Regions from separate parts of the Homo sapiens genome. Here region 1 is linked to region 2. A link means that fine-mapping ties the variant in region 2 to the expression of a gene that starts in the linked region. Tissue or cell type: monocytes after LPS. Region 2 holds a variant in brackets; the other region holds the start of a gene. All regions are shown on one strand. Distances are between the middles of the regions.

Region 1 (8,103 bases), 130 kb before region 2:
AATAGAAAAGAAACCTAAATATAGGCTTATAGCAAGAAAAAGTAAATGAAGGGAGAGATTTCCCTGAATATTTTAACATAGTCTGTTGGATCATGTGTTCCGAATTAAATTTATTTAAAACAGACAACAAAACCTCTTACATTTCCTTTAGCGAAGTCAGAACCTCTGGCTTAACGGTGTGTGACAGCACACTGCTCTTCACTTTTCCTTAAAAAGGAATGTTTATCTCAACCAAATTAACAACCAACGGGAAACCTCAGATTTGCGCTGCTTTGCCTATAAAAGTTGCTTTCGTCACAGTTATGCCTTTCCACAGGGAGACACTTTTGTTTCCTCTTTTGTCTCTTACAACAAAGACAAGGGGAAAAATGCATTCCTGTTTTGAAAAGCAACAAGTCATCACTTCTTTTCAGGGTATTAGACCAAATAAAACACCCGTCTTTCTGCCTCCTGCCTTCCCCAGAAAATGAAAAAGTAGCAAAAATACCTACTCCACGTCTCCTTGGCCTTATCTCAAAATGTTATCATCATTTCTTTTGCATCCTCACATTAGGATTCTAGCAGGCAGGCCTCCCAAGACTTCCAAATGCTTATTTTACAAGACCTGAAAGCAGTACGGGAGGAAAAACAGGCGGGAGGGGGCAGGGGAGGAGAGACCGTAATGTCTGACCCTGGAAATTAACCCATCTGGGCTCCAGTTTGGCCCCAGTGAAAAGAGATTATGGTTTGACCACTGCTTGACAAGCACACCGCAGGAGGCCCTCCCTCTTTCCAACAAAGCAGCCACCGCAGACAGGGCTGTACCTTTCCCGGGGCCTCACAGGGGTCTGGACAGGCCACTCGCCCTGCAGCAGGGGGATCGCTCACAGTCCCCGTTCAGCCTCGGAGCCGGGAGAAACTCACAGCAGTCTCTGCTGGTCTCAACCTTCTATTAGGCACAAGCTGGCCCGTACCTTTGACGATTCACATCGCCGTTATCATCATCTTCCTGCAAGTCTTTGCCTGAAATCTTTTCATCCAAACCGCTTTCCACCCAGGTCTTCTTTTCCAAATCACCCCTCGCCCCAAATCTGCAAAGAACTTCTCACTTCCAGGTCACTTCTCAGTAGAGGGGGAGAAAGTTACAGAAACAGGCCCCCACCCAGCAGTTCTTTTCCCTACCGTGCCTCTCCTCTTGCAAGAGGGCTGGGGTGGGAAAGGTGGGGAGGGGCCGGGGCTCATACCGCAGTCTCCCCCTTGCTGCTGTGGCTAAGTCTGTGGTAGAAGCGGCGCCACGACTGCAGGGTCTTGCCCGACCAGATCCAGAAGCCAGTGGTGATGCCGACGATCATGGTCATCAGGTACTTGATCATGAAGACGGTGAAGTCGGGGCTCATGGGCGGGAAGTGGCCGGGCGGGCAGGGCACGGCATAGCTCTTGCACGTCTGCAGGAGCCAGGTGCGCTCCCAGTGCTCGCGGAAGGCCTGCTCGTAGAAGTAGCAGGCCAGGACGATGGTGGCGGGCACTGTGTAGAGCACGCTGAAGACGCCGATGCGCACCATGAGCTTCTCCAGCTTCTCGGTCTTGGTGCCGTCGTGTTTCATGATGGTGCGGATACGGAAGAGGGACACGAAGCCGGCCAGCAAGAAGGACGTGCCTATGAAGAGGTAGACGAACAGAGGCGCCAGCACGAAGCCCCGCAGCGCGTCCACACTGGAGAGGCCAACGTAGCACACCCCGCTCAGCAGGTCCCCGTCTACCTGGCCCATGGCCAGGATAGTGATGGTCTTGACGGCGGGCACGGCCCACGCGGCCAGGTGGAAGTACTGCGAGTTGGCCTCGATGGCCTCGTGGCCCCACTTCATGCCGGCCGCCAGGAACCAAGTGAGAGACAGAATGACCCACCAGATGGAGCTGGCCATGCCGAAGAAGTAGAGCACCATGAAGAGGATGGTGCAGCCCTCCTTCTTGGTGCCCTGCGCCACCGTGCGGTAGCCATCGTCCGAGAAGCGCTCCACGCACACGGCGCGGTCCTCTAGAAGGAAGCCGGCCACGTGCGCCACGGCCACCATGAAGTAGCAGCCCGACAGGAAGATGATGGGCCGCTCTGGGTAGCTGAAGCGCCGCATGTCCACCAGGTAGGTGAGAACGGTAAAGAGCGTCGAGGCGCAGCACAGCACGGACCACACGCCCACCCAGAGGCGGGCGAAGCGCCTCTCCTCCTCCTTAAAGTACATCAGGCCGTTGGCACGGCCCGGTTCGCACGGGGCGCCACAATCGCGCTCACCCAGGAAGCGGTAGCCCAGGTACGGGGGCACCTTGAGCTGACGGGGGCATGAGAAGGGGAAGGCGGGACGCCCCCTGCCATCTGAGGCCCCCGGGGGCAGCGCGGTGAAGGGCAGGTCCGGCAGGTAGGGCGCGGTAGGGTAGGCAGTGGGGCCGCCGCCTGGGCCCCCGGAGCCGTCCGACGTGTTCTGGCCCACGCAGATCTCGCCCGCACCGTGCACCGGGAAGTTCTCGCAGCGCAGCCGCTCGGGCCACTGGAAGCCGAACTTGTTCATGAGCGCCTCGCAGCCCTGGCGGGCGCGCTCGCACAGAGAACGACACGGCGGGATGGCCTGATCGAGCACGGTGCACACGGGCGCATACATGGAGCATAAGAAAAAGCGGAGTTCGGGAGAACACTGCACCTTCACCAGCGGGTAGAACTGGTGCACCTCGAGGCCCGCGTCCTCTTGGTTCGTGTGGCCCAGCAGGTTGGGCAGGATGGTCTGGTTGTAGGCGATGTCCGTGCACAGCGGGATGGAGATGGGCTGGCAGAAGCCGTGGTCCGGCACGGAGATGCCCTTCTCTCCGTGGTACGGCTGCGCCCCGGCGCCCGCGGACAGTGCGCCCAGCAGCGCCAGCACCAGGGCACAGAGGCCCAGGGACGAAAGCGGAGCGGCCGCGCCGGGGTCCCGCATCGCCGGCCGCGAGTGCAGCGGTGCTCTCAGCCTGAGGAGTGCGACGAGGCGGTTGGGAGAGGCTTGGATGCGGGGAGGCGCCGCCGCGCCCGACGCATGAGAGTCCTCACGGCGCCGGGGCCGGGCCGTGGGCGGCGTGGAGCAAAGGGCGCTGCCGCCTGGGTGCCCGCGCCGCGAAGGCGCCGCAGACGCCGCCGCCCTGCACTCGCAGGGCCGCCGGGGGCCCAAAACTCGTCAGCCTGGGTTGGGGGCGCCGAGGAGGGCCGCCTCGCTCTCCCCGCGGGGACGTAACGGTGCGGCTCCCTCCGCCGCGAGGAGCAACAAGCGGCTCCGGCACCCTTCAAAGTTTGCCCAAGACTCTGGACCCCCGGCGCACCGCAGCGCGCACGCCCCCCGCGCCTGGTCCGGTCCCCGCTAGGAGAACCCCTGCCGCCGCCGCTCGCTCGCCCCGGCCGCCGCCTCCGCGGTGCTGCCCCGCCTCCTGGCCTCGAGGCTCCGCTCGTCGCCGCCTCCTTCGCCTCCTCCTCCACACCCCGCTCCTTCTTCAGCCCCAAAAGCTCGGCCCCAAGTTTCAGCCAAACGGCCGGCTCTTGCTGAGTCCGATCTCGGCCCCGGAGTCGGGAGCACGGCGAGTTCTTTTTGGAAACCCAGTCACACTGCGTCCGAAACCGCGAGGCGCTCGTGCCCGCGGCCTGGCCCCGGCCCCTCCAGCCCCTCGCAGCCCCAGCAGCGAGTCCTGGCGCCCGCCGCCGCCGCCGCCGCCGCCGCCCGCCGGGAGTGAGCGCCGACTAACGCCTCGGAGTCGCGCTGGTCGCCAGAAGAAGCGTCGGGCTCGCGGGGTTCCGGGCCGGCCCGCCCCCTCCCGTCCCCTCCCGTCCCCTCCCCTCCCCTCCCCTCCCCCCCCATTCACAAACCACTCCGGGGGCGGCCCCAGGCCCCGGCGGCCCAATGGCGGCCTTTGTTTTTTCGGTGGCCGCCTTCGGATTGGGCGGAAGTCGGAAGGGGCGGGCGCGGGAGTGGCGGAGGCGGTGTCCGCGGCGCTCTGGGCGGATTCCTGAGGGGAGGGGCGGGGGACTGGGAGGGAAAAGTTCGGAAAAACTTTTACCCTGAATTCGCTCAGGGACGAAAACGCGCAGAAAGGGAATTTGCTTCAAAGATTTGTTCCTCTTCCTGGTGCACTCAGATGCGCATTCCTGAGCAGGGGCGCCTTCGCCAGCGGCGTTTGAGGGGAGCGAGGACCGCGCAGCGCCCCTTCGGGGAGAGACGTGACCAGGAGTCGCGTTAGGACTGCAAAGGCTGGCTCTGGCGGGGCTTTCGGGTCGCCGGGTCCTCAATGTGGGGTTTGGGACGGGACGAGAAGGGGGTGCGCCTTGCGGATCGCCTCTTTCCCCCCGGACCCAAAGAGTCCACGCGAGGCCACAGTCCCCTCTCCCCTCCCCCGAGTTATAAAAAGGAGGAGGGGCCGCCTCCGAGGAGAAACCCGAGTCGGGCGGAGGGGGCCGAGTGACGGCGGGAGGAAGGACCCCTCGGAGGAAGGGCCCGAAGCAGGGAGAGCGGGGAACCCGGGCTCAGGCCACCCCGCCCGCGCGCACGGCCTGGAGTCTGGGGAACTGGGGTGACTCTAGCGAGGTTTTAAGGAAACGAAGACGGCGTTGGGGAGACTGGTTCTAGAAGTAACCTGAGACCGAGCGCCCAGGAACACTCTGTACGACGCGCCGGGCGTCTCAGTGGCCCCGTGTGCCTTGGTTCTGCGGCGTGTGCCCTTTCGGGATCCCATCTTCGTTGCAGAAGCAACCATTTGATCCTCCATTTAGAATCTGCGTAGGAATGTTTTAATGCGTCTTAGAAACCAGGCTAATTAAAGAGTTTTCAAAACACAAAGCGGGGTTATCCTCGTTCTCGGGTAGCGTTTTCTGATTGGCAAACGTTCTTTTGTTCTCGGTTAAATCTTCGTCTTGAGCCAGGCGCTGGGCGCTCGCGCGCGCTCTCTGGTTACTCCTGCGGGGGTCATAAGTCACCAGGGGGCCTCTCCCCTCTCTCCGGGCTGCCAGGAATATCAGGAATTCCCATGCAGGAAAGTGACATGTTGAGAAGGAAAAGAAAAAAATCAATCAATCAATCTCTCCTCCTCCTCCTCTTTCCTCTGTCTCTCTCTCTCTCTCTCTCACACACACACACACACACACACACACACAGCAATCCTGTGCTTTAAAAAACGTTATTCCTGGCGGAGCCCTTCTGCCTCAGTCCCGGGTGCTGGAGCTCTGAGCGATTTCTGATCAGGTTGAACCTTGGCAGAAGTTGCTGTCTCTGCTGCCTCCCGTGCGCTTCTTCTACAGCAGGAAAAAAACTCATTCTGAAATCGAAGACAATTAATTGGGTTCCCTTCCATGGGAGACTTTGGCTTTCTCTGTTTTTCTTTATTTATTTTCGATCACTGAAGATTGCTGGGAATCGTTCTTTCCGATTCACGGTTCTTTGTCCTTCCCCACTCCTGTTAATAGGTCGAAAGGGCGGAAGGAAGCCTTTGGGCCAAGGCAGAGTGTTAGACTGATCACATCCTCCATCCGGCCCTCAGCGGGAGTCGCCTTCTTCCTCCCAAGCATCAGTTTCGCCCTCCCTCCCGGACCCCCCCACCCTTTTTTTCCTTTTCTTTGGGACATGTGCTGAAGGTAATACGATACCTGCTTTAAAAATGTTTCATTCCTTCTTTGTGTTTTTAAAAGGGCCCCCCTTTTCTTTCTAAATTATTATTTCTATTACCTAACATCGGGGAGTGTTGATCTTCGGTTGAAATATGTTGCTTAAAGACAATGCTGCTGCTTTGCTTTGTCATTTAAAGTATGTGTGGTGGGGGGTTAGATTCCTTTTTTCTCTCCATGAGCTTCAGGATATCCTCCTTTTCTAAATCAAAATTTCATGCTTATTCATCAGGCCACTGATCTAAGTCATCTTTGCTTATTGAGGAAGAAATACCAAGCACTGTCATCAAATAAAATGAAAACTGACAGGATAAAATACTGTCTCAACTGCAACTAAAACCAATTTAGCTGATGAGCTTCTACTCTCCATATTATAACCCCAGACAGCTCCGATGTTAGGCAATAGGGATAATAATTTAGAAAAAAAAAACCCTTAAATACAAGGGACGAATGAAAAGCAGTCTATGCCTAAGATGCAGAAAACCCATCCCAGATGGAAAGTGTTACAGATGTGAGTCCTCTTGCTCTGTCCCAGGCAGACAAGTCCAAAAAGCAGAGAAGCAAAGCCAATTTTTAAAACAGATTGTTTTGTTTTTAAAGATTTTTAAAAAATCAATCCAAAATTATTCTCCAAAATAAGAATTTGCTGTGAGAGGGGGAGCTCTGGCTTTCCAAGCCTTGCCTGGTATAGAATGCTATGATTTTAAGGAGCCAAGTCATAGAAGATCAGAAAAAGTAAGTTCACAATGTAAGGGTCTAATCATGTTTTAGGTTCTATGACAAATGTAGTGACATCTGTTTATATTCTGTCCAGGATCATTTTAATTTTGCTTCCTAAGCAACCCCTTCCACACCCAACTCCCAAAGCCACTAACTGGTATCTTCTTGGGAGAGCCAAGGGTGGAAAATTTTGTGACTATCTGCTGCAAAATTTCCAATTGTCCCTGCCCTTTAAAATAACAAAGGCCTTTATTTCTTCACATGTAGTCATATGGTCCCACAGAAAAGTGATGCTATTCATTGGCTCCAGTTTTGCAAATGCTACTTATTTTGGCCAAGTCCCAGGTTTATCTAGTTGAATTACATTCTGATGTCAGGCCAGATTTGAAAATGGCCGTCTTCGTGTGCCCCAGTCCTGCGGTTGTAATGAAGCTCCTGCTGCAAGAATTACTCATGCAAGACTAGAAAGGGCAAATTTTAGCACATGCTTTCCTTTCTGGCCTCTCTTTTACTAGACAATTTTGACGTAATAACATGGAGAACTTGGAATTTCCAGTTGTCAGGTTGTCATTGACTTGTGTTCATTTTTGTTGGGGTGTTGGATCATTCCAAAAATGGGGATATTCTTATCCCTAAAACCCTTTCAAGGGTTATGAAAGTTAGAGATATCTAAGTTGCAGAAGAGGAGGACCATGCAATAATCATGTTAGATGTGCAGGCCGCATCTTGTAGAGATGATTTATATGGTAAATTCAGTCACTGAGTCTGACCAACACTTCCCTTGTCGATTGAGAGGGGTTTTTGTGTTTCTGTTTTTGTTTTTTGAGACAGAATCTCACCCTGCCACTCAGGCTGGAGTGAGGTAGAGTGATCATAGCTCACTGCAGCCTCGAACTCCTGGTCTTAAGTGATCCTTCTACCTCAGCTTCCAGAAAAGCTGGGACTACAGGTGAGCGTCACCACACTGGGCTAGTTGAGAGTTTTATACGTTGACTATTGTATAATCAGGGTGTTGATCAGGGCTGTGATGGCCTCAAGGCTCAATTGGAGGAGCCACTTCCAAGCTCACTCATGTGGCTGTTGGCAGGCCTCAGGCTGTCACTAGCTGTTGGCCAGAGACATCAGTTCCTTGCAATGTGGACCTCTCATAAGGCCACTCGTAATATGGCACCTTGCTTCCCTCACAGCAAAGGCTCAGAGAGTCTCTCCCTCTGAGAGAGGGAGGGAAAGAAGGAGGGAGAGAGAGAGAGCAGGAAAAAATGACGATCAAGATAGAAGTCACAGTCTTTCTGTAACCTAATCTGGGAAGTGACATCCTACCACTTTTGCCATATACTATTCACTAGAAGCAAGTCACCAGATCTTCCCACACTCAAGGGGTAGCAGGGATTATACATAGAGTGTGCAAAACCATTGGGGGATCATAGGGAGCCATTTGAGAGGCTGCTTACTACAAGGATTATTCATTTATTCATTTCCAGAGTATTATGAAGATGAGGCAACAGAGAGAAACGACTCTTGGAGCTCTGTCCTTGGGGAGTCCAGAGAAAGGGTCACAGATAAAAATACAGTGTTGACTGGTTATGTTGCCACTTGCAGATGTTAGAGTCAGAACAGAACCCTAACTCTGGCCAACCAGTTTTCCAAACACATGTCCCTGGGAGAGAAAACATGGAGGAAGTTGATTAATAAAAGACCATGAACAGTTCTGGAAAAAATGTCCAAATGTAGAGCGCTGG
Region 2 (8,106 bases):
ACCATGAAAAACCAAGCACTGTCCTAGTTAAGTATCACCCACCCAAGAACTTTTACAAATGTGAACTTGCTTTCCTACTTGGTCAGCATCCACTCCCAACCTAGAAATGTTATCCTCAATATTGAAATTAAAATGGCTTTCCTGGTTAGTTATCTCCCTTTTCTCACCTGTAAATGAGAACCTTTAAAAATGATTTCTGAGACACCTTCCAGTGGCCAAACTTGTGATTCTCTGTTTTGTAAGACAGACAAATGTGTGAGTCTCTCTGTGCCCCAAACAGCAAGCCATCATTCTAACCCAAATATTATTCATTTCATTCATTAGCTTAATAAATGCTTGGTGAATGAGCGACCGAATTAATTAATGAATGCCTACTGTGTTCCCCGCCCCAGGGAACACACGGATAAATAAGACAGCTTTTGCCTTTCAGCAGCTCACACTGAAGAGAGAAACAGATGTATAAACAGAAGTGCTGCTCAGTTTAACTTTCTTTTCAGTGAGTTTTATTTACTTATTATTATAATAAACATTTTAATTTATTTAGTGCCTAGTCTGTGTCAGGCATGCTGCTGGGTGTTATACAATGAATCTTCACACTCACTCTACAAAATAGGCATTATTGACCTTATTTTAAAGATTAGAAAACCAAGGTCAGCAAGTGACAGACTTGATCTGGTTGGCTCCTAATCACGTGTTTGTGGTATGTGATTACTAAGTCATATGTGTATGATATGAGATATATGATCTTTACTGATTCTGGAAAGAAAAGCAAAATGGCACCATGATTTGATCTCAGTGGAAGGCAGCAAGTGGTGGTGTTTCCAATTCATTCGCTTAACCAACATTGATTGAACATCTTCTCAATGTCCAACTTACACTAGACACTGGGGATAAAATTAAAAAGCTAAGCATTCTTCTAATCTCCTAACGCTGTCAGTTTTTAAAAAGGATAAAGAAGGCTGGATGTGGTGGCTCATGCCTGTAATCCCAGCACTTTGGGAGGCCGGGGCGGGCGGATCACCTGAGGTTGGGAGTTCAAGACCAGCCTGACCAACATGGAGAAACCCTGTCTCTACTAAAAATACAAAATTAGCCTGGCATGGAGGCACATGCCTGTAATCTCAGCTACTCGGGAGGCTGAGGCAGGGGAATCACTTGAACCCGGGAGGCAGAGGTTGCAGTGAGCTGAGATCATGCCATTGCACTCCAGCCTGGGCAACAAGAGTGAAACTCCATCTCAAAAAAAAAAAAAAAAGAAGAAGAAGAAGAAGAAAGAAGTGTCAACTAATAATTGCAATGAAATGGGACCAATACTATGATGTACATAGCAACAGAGTGCTCTGGGATCCCAGAGAAGAGAGCAACTCACCCTGGGCTGGAGGACCTTTCAGCTGAGCATTGAGGGATAAGAGTTCACCAGGCAGAGAGGATGGAAGAGGGCATTCTAAGCAGAGGGGACAGAAAGTGCAAAAAGCTAGGGATGTGAACAGAATACTGCATTCAGGGAATACTGAGAAATTCCACGTGGCTGAGTGTAGAGGAAGCGAGTGAGCCTGGAGGCTGATGGAGCCAGCTGGAGTACTCAGTTGGGGCCATGCTGAAGAGCTGGTTCAGAATTTATCCTATGACTGATAGAGATTTTTTTAGGGGGGATAGTGACATCATCTGATTTGTTTTTTAGCAAGAGAACACTGGCTTCCGGGTGGAGCAGTGATTATCAGCCCTGGCTACACATTAGAATAATATGGGGAGCTTAAAAAAGTCCTGTGCCTATGTTGCAGACCAGAGCAATTAAACAGGGACCCAGGCATCAGTATTTTCAAGATTATTCCAATGTGCAGCCAAGGTTGAGAACTACTGGTATGGGGAATACTCCAGAGAAAAAATTGGTGGCTGGAAGGCCAGTTAGGAGACTACAGGGCAAGACCTGCAGAATACAGCCAGGACAGTGTTCTCACTTTAGTGAATGCAGATTTACCAGGCTCCACCCCACTCAGTTCCAGATTCAGTAGGTCTGAGGTAAGCCCCGAGAATTTGCATTTCTAACCACTTCCCAGGGGATGCTGATGTTGCTGGTACAGGGACCTCACTTTGAGAACCACATAGCCTGGCACTGGCTATAGAAGAAAATGTACTGAAAGGTATTTAGGAGGCAGGGAGAGGGGAATCAGGCAATTGGGAGGATGGTGATGCTGTTAACCAAAACGAGAATGGAGAAGACCTTTTTTGCTTTGTTTTTGATGTAGGGAGAAGTTTGGACATGCAGAATTTGACATATTTGTTAGAAACATCTAGGTGAAAGCACCTCGTCAAGCAGCTGGAATTACTTTTCTAACCATCAGGAAAAAGTGAGGCGAATTCCGGGACAAATTAGGACCTTAAACTTACCCTAATTGAAGATAGATATGGACCTTTATATAGCTTGAGAATATATATTACTTATAATTAGAAACCTTTGACTGTGTGTGGTGGCTCATGCCTGTAATCCCACTACTTTGGGAGGCTGAGGCGGGCAGATTGCTTGAGCCCAGAAGTTCGAGACCAGCCTGGGCAACGTGGTGAAACCGCATCTCTATTTAAAAAAAAAAAATTAGCTGAGTATGGTGGCTTGAGCCTGTAGTCCCAGCTACTAGGGAGGTTGAGGCTGCAGTAAGCCATTATTGTGCCTCTGCACTCCAGCCTGGGTGACAGAGGAGACCATCTCAAAAAAACAAAAAACAAAAAAAAAGAAAAAGAAAAACACTTTTTTTTTCTGATGACATGTTTAATTAACAAAAGACTAATGGTGTTCTTTTAGCCACTGGAAAAAAAAAGATTGTATATATATATATATATATATATATATATATATATATATATATATATATATATATATATATACAGTTAACCCTTGAACAACATGGGTTTGAACTACATAGGTCCACTTATAAGTGGATTTTCTTCTGCCCCTTCCACCCTGAGACAGCAAGACCAACCCTTCCTCTTCCTTCTCAGCCCTTTGAATATGAAGACAGAAAGTTGAAGAACTTCATGATGATCCACTTCCATTTAATGAACAGTAAATATATTTTCTCTTCCTTATGATTTTCTTAATAACATTTTCTTTTCTCTAGCTTACTTTATTGTAAGAATACAGTATAAAACACATACATAAAATGTGTGTTAATTGGTTGTTTATCTTATTGGTAAGTCTTCTAGTCAACAGTAGATGATTATTAGGTAAGTTTTTTTTGAAGAGTCAAAAGTTACATGTGGGCCGGGTGTGGTGGCTGACTCCTGAAATCCTAGCACTTTGGGAGACCGAGGCGGGAGGCTCACTTGAGACCAGGAATTCAAGACCAGCCTGGACAACACAGCAAGATTCTGTCTCTGCAAAAAATTTAAAAAATTAGCCAGGTGTAGTTGCATGTGCTTGTAGTCCTAACTGTTTGGGAGGCTGAGGTGGGAGGATGGCTTAAGCCCAGGAGGTTAAGGCTGCAATGAGCTATGATTGTGCCACTGCACTCCAGCCTGTGTGACAGAGCTAGATCCTGTCTCAAAAGAAAAAAAAAAAAGTTACATGTGGATTTTCTACTGCACACAGGGTGGGGAGTGGGGGTAGGGGGTGGGGGGCTTGGCACCTCTAATCCCTGTGTTGTTCAAGGTCAACTGTATATATCTATATGTGCCATTAAACCTTGTTAAGTATACTTAGGTCAAAATGTTTAAACTGCTTCCACCAGCTTTTTGCATTCATCTTCATACATAAAAGAAAATAAAACTTTTATTTGTCATATTGATAGTTGTCATGCTTTCTTTTTATTTTATTTTACTTTTATTTTTTATTTTATTTTATTATTTTTTTTTTGAGAGGGAGTCTCGTTCTGTTGCCCAGGTTGGAGTGCAGTGATGCGATCTCAGCTCACTGCCAGCTCCGCCTCCAGGGTTCATGCCATTCTCCTGCCTCAGCCTCCCGAGTAGCTGGGACTACAGGCACCTGCCACCATGCCCGGCTAATTTTTTTGTATTTTTAATAGAGACAGGGTTTCACCGTGTTAGCCAGGATGGTCTCAATCTCCTGACCTCGTGATCCGCCTGCCTCAGACTCCCAAAGTGCTGGGATTACAGGCGTGAGCCACCACCGCGCCCGGCTGCTTTCCTCTTATTAATGAGAAGAGTCCAAGGTTCCCCCAGTGGTAAAACACAGGGGTTGGGTTTTGTGCCTGCTGAGGACCCATCCACTTCCAGCATTCCATGAATTTGCCTTTGATTCTCTGTCAGTTTTGCCGGAAAGATCTCCGAGAGTTGGTAACACTGGAAAAGTTTTTTTGCCCATTTTAACTTTTTTAGAGTTCATTTCTATCAAAAACTAGTAAGGCCCTATTGTCAGAGCTATGTCTTAAAGGTATTTCCAAACTTGTTTCTTATTCTTCACTTGACAAGTGCTGTCACAGGGCTCCATCACTCCTAGAGTAACAGCTACCAATAAACAGAAAATTATTTCCAACCAGCTAACATGCTGTTTACTTTCCAGAAAAATTGCACTTTCCAATCTGACAGTTGATCAAGGGGTATCCCGCTGCTGTCAGCAGGAAGAAATGTTTAAACACAGAGATGGGAGTTTAAACATTTTCTCATTATCACAGAATAAGGGGAAAAAACACAAATAAATAAATAAGTAAAAATGGCATCCAGACTCTGTAACCCCCTGCTGGGAGCGTAATGAAGCTGGGTCATGTGACCTGAAGGAGTGGGCTTTTATCTCTGGCCCCAGTATCGTTACTCAAGTGACACCTGTCACATGACCCAACTTCGGTCTTTTATCTGCCTTCCCCAGGCACTCTTTTGGGGAA[C/T]TGTCTTTTCCAGAGATGCGTGGCCCATTGCAGCCATTGTAGTGGGCGCTGTTCGTGTGATTAGCCTGGCCTTTTGTGTTTCCTGCCTCGAATCCGCTAGATCTTTCTCTAAACATTGAAACATAAAAAAATTACAAAATACCTACAAAACTGAAACAAAAACCAAAAAGATCTCAAAGCGGAAAAAATCAGTGCCATTATTTTATTCATACAAGTTTTCAGGAATTGGAATTGGTCTGCAGAGAAAAATATCTATATTTTAAAATTCTGATCCTCATTTTTTAATCTGTTCTTCAGAGTAGGAGGTTAGTGAAACCCAGGGTTCCTGCAGCTCTAGCCAGGCTTACCAAATGGAGCCACAGTCACAAACAGAACCAGAATCAGGTGTTGTCGACTTTCCCTCCCAACGTCATCCCCAAACCCAAACTCACTGTTAAATCTAAGTTGGTTCCATATTGTCCTCCTGCCTTCCCTTCCAGGTCAAACCCCATGGGTATTAGCATATTTAATTCCCCTGTTCCTTTTTTTTCATTTACTATCACCACCACCACCTAATTTTTATAGTGCTTACTATATGCCAGGCACTGTTTAAAATATTTTATTACTTATTATTTTTTGAGATGGAGTCTTGCTCTGTCACCCAGGCTGGAGTGCAATGGTGTGATGTTGGCTCACTGCAACCTCCACTTCCTGGGTTCAAGCGATTTTTGTGCCTTAGCCTCCCGAGTAGCTGGGATTACAGGTGTGTGCCACCACACCTGGCTAATTTTTGTATTTTTAGTAGAGACCAAGTTTCACCATGTTGGCCAGGCTGGTCTCGAACTCCCGACCTCAGGAGATCCTCCTGCCTCGACTTCCCAAAGTGCTGGCTTACAGGCGTGAGCCACAGCGCCCGGCCCAATTTATTTATTTTTTTTTGAGACAGGGTCTTGCTCTATCACATAGGCTAGAGTCCAGTGGCACCACCACAGCTCACAGCAATCTCTGAACTCCTGGGCTCAAGCGATCCTCCCACCTTAGCCTGCCAAGCAGCTGGGATTACAAGCGTGTGCCACCATGCCCAGCTAATTTTTTAATTTCTTGTAGAGATGAGGTCTCACTATGTTGTCCAGGCTAGTCTCAAACTCTTGGCCTCAAGTGATCCTCCCACTTTGGCTTCTCAAGGTGCTGGGATTACAGGCATGAGCCACCGTGCCCAGCTTCTTTAAGATATTTTAAATGTATTAATTCGTTTAATCCTCACCACCAACTCTATGAGTCAGATACTATTATCATTCCTATCTTACAAAGGAGGAAGTGAAAGCAGAGAAGGGAGGTAACTTGCCCCCAAATCACACAGTTAGTAAGTGGCAGAGACAGATTTGAACAAATGCCTGATTGTGTACCACCTGGCTCCTGATTCTGTACACCTGCTCAATGGTTTGATTATGTTTTATCTGTGTACTTTACCTCTTCTCCAGTCTCAGAGGACATGCATCTCTTACCCTCTCCCAGGCAAACATAGACTCTCAATCTCCTTTCCTTCAATCTCTGAATCTTCACTGATTCATTTATTCCACAAGTGTTTCCTAAGCACTGACTATGTGTCATGCACAATTCTAGGTGCTTGGGATATATCAGTAACAGAACATATCAAAATCATTTTTCCTGTGGGGCTTGATTTCTACTGTGGGAGATAGAAAACATAACAAATGTAATACACTGGTACATCATATATGAAAAAACAAAGCCAAAACAGAACAGGACAAGGGAGAAAAAGTGTGCTGGGTTGCAGTTGAAACATGGTAGAGTTCATTCATTCAAAAGACATTTACTGAGACTCTGCTACATGCAAGACAGTGTTCAAGGTGCTTGAGATACGCTAGTGGATAAAACAGATTCCTAGGCCGGAGGTGGTGGCTCACCCAAAGGCAGGTGGATCACCTGAGGTCAGGAGTTCAAGACCAGCCTGGCCAACATGATGAAACCCCATCTCTACTAAAAATACAAAAATTAGCCGGGCATGGTGGCATCCATCTGTAATCCCACCTACTTAGGAGGCTGAGGCAGGAGAATTACTTGAACCTGGGAGGCGGAGGTTGCAGTGAGCTGAGATCACACCATTGCACTCCAGCCTGTGTGAGAAGAGCAAAACTACATCTCAAAAAAGTATAAATAAAATAAAATAAAACATATTCTTATCTTCATGGAACTTACATTCCAGCTGGGGGGAGAGAGAAACAATAAATATCATAAATTGGTAAATCTATTATGGAGCACGACATCAAGTGATAAGATGCTTTAGAAAAATAGGGCAGGTTAAGGGGGATTGGTGTACAGGAGGCTTCCAAATTAGTGGCCCATTAAATAGGGTGGCCAGGATAGGCTTCACCAACCGGTGACATTTGGACAAAGGCTTGAAGTAGGCAAGGGAGTTGGCTGTGTGGATATTTGGAAGAGGGGTTCTAGGCAGAGGCACGAGCCAGGCAAAAACTCGAGAAGGGATCATGCCTGGTATTTTTGGATTATCTACTGATTCTTCAACTTCTTTCTCTCTTTTTTCTTCAGCTCATAAAAATGTATAATCTCTCCTATGCCAAACAAAACACGAAACCTGTCAGTCCTTCCGTGCTCTAGTGAGTCCTCCATCTTTCCTATCCTTTTATGCAACAATTTCTGAAAGATATTCCCTCATTCTGCTTTCTTACCTGTCACTGTCTCTTTAATCCATCGTGCTCTTCTATGACCACCATGCCATGGAAGCTGCTCCCTTGTAGGTTACCAAGGACAGGTAGCCTCCCAAATCCACGGCCTTTCTTTGTTCACACCTTCCTGGTGGTTTTCTCTGCAGGCTACTCAATCTTGGAACGCTCTTGTTAACTTCTGTCACACAGAATGGTTCTAGTCCCTCCCCTCTCCGCACAACACCTCCCCTTTCCACCAATTTCTAACCACTAATGCTTTGTCTCCTTTGTTGATTCTTCCATCTCCAAGCTCTAAATACTGCTTAAATAAAGCTAATATTGAGCTTTCCCAAGGTACAATTCTTGTGCTTCCTCTCTTCAGATATGTTCTCTTGGGCAGTCACATCCTGGGGACTTCAAGGACCATCAGTGTGTAGATGACACTCACTCACAGCCATCTCCACGTCCTGTTCCCAGGCCGGCGGTTCTAATCATCTTATGCACACCAGTACCTCAAACTCAAGATGTCTAGAAGTGAGCTCATAACCGTCTCTCTCAAAGGAAGTACCCAACTGTGAATGATGTAACAAGCCATCCAGGCCCCCAGATTG

Direction of the effects. Alleles are on the strand shown, and positions count from the first base shown. SD is a standard deviation of normalised expression in the study named.
For the expression in monocytes after LPS of the gene that starts at base 3,735 in region 1, C is the high allele of the variant in region 2 and T is the other (moderate effect, 0.55 SD a copy in Quach 2016).

What was found. PIP is the estimated chance that this variant, and not a neighbour inherited with it, causes the effect.
Region 1: FZD7 starts here. The variant in region 2 is fine-mapped to the expression of FZD7 in monocytes after LPS (Quach 2016, PIP 0.95).

The regions. Positions count from the first base shown.
Region 1 is chr2:202,029,487-202,037,589 of GRCh38, reverse strand. It overlaps FZD7 (frizzled class receptor 7), which reads right to left and starts at 3,735. Exons shown (of 1, transcript NM_003507.2): 1 at 1-3,735. The coding sequence starts at 2,942. The coding sequence ends at 1,218. RefSeq lists enhancers at 2,694-2,813, 2,011-2,851 and silencers at 3,414-3,493, 3,604-4,153.
Region 2 is chr2:201,898,651-201,906,756 of GRCh38, reverse strand. No RefSeq gene overlaps it. Among named protein-coding and RNA genes, the nearest start is that of CDK15, 96 kb to the right of the region's middle. RefSeq lists an enhancer at 4,294-5,017. The variant C/T (reference allele first, on the strand shown) is at 4,833.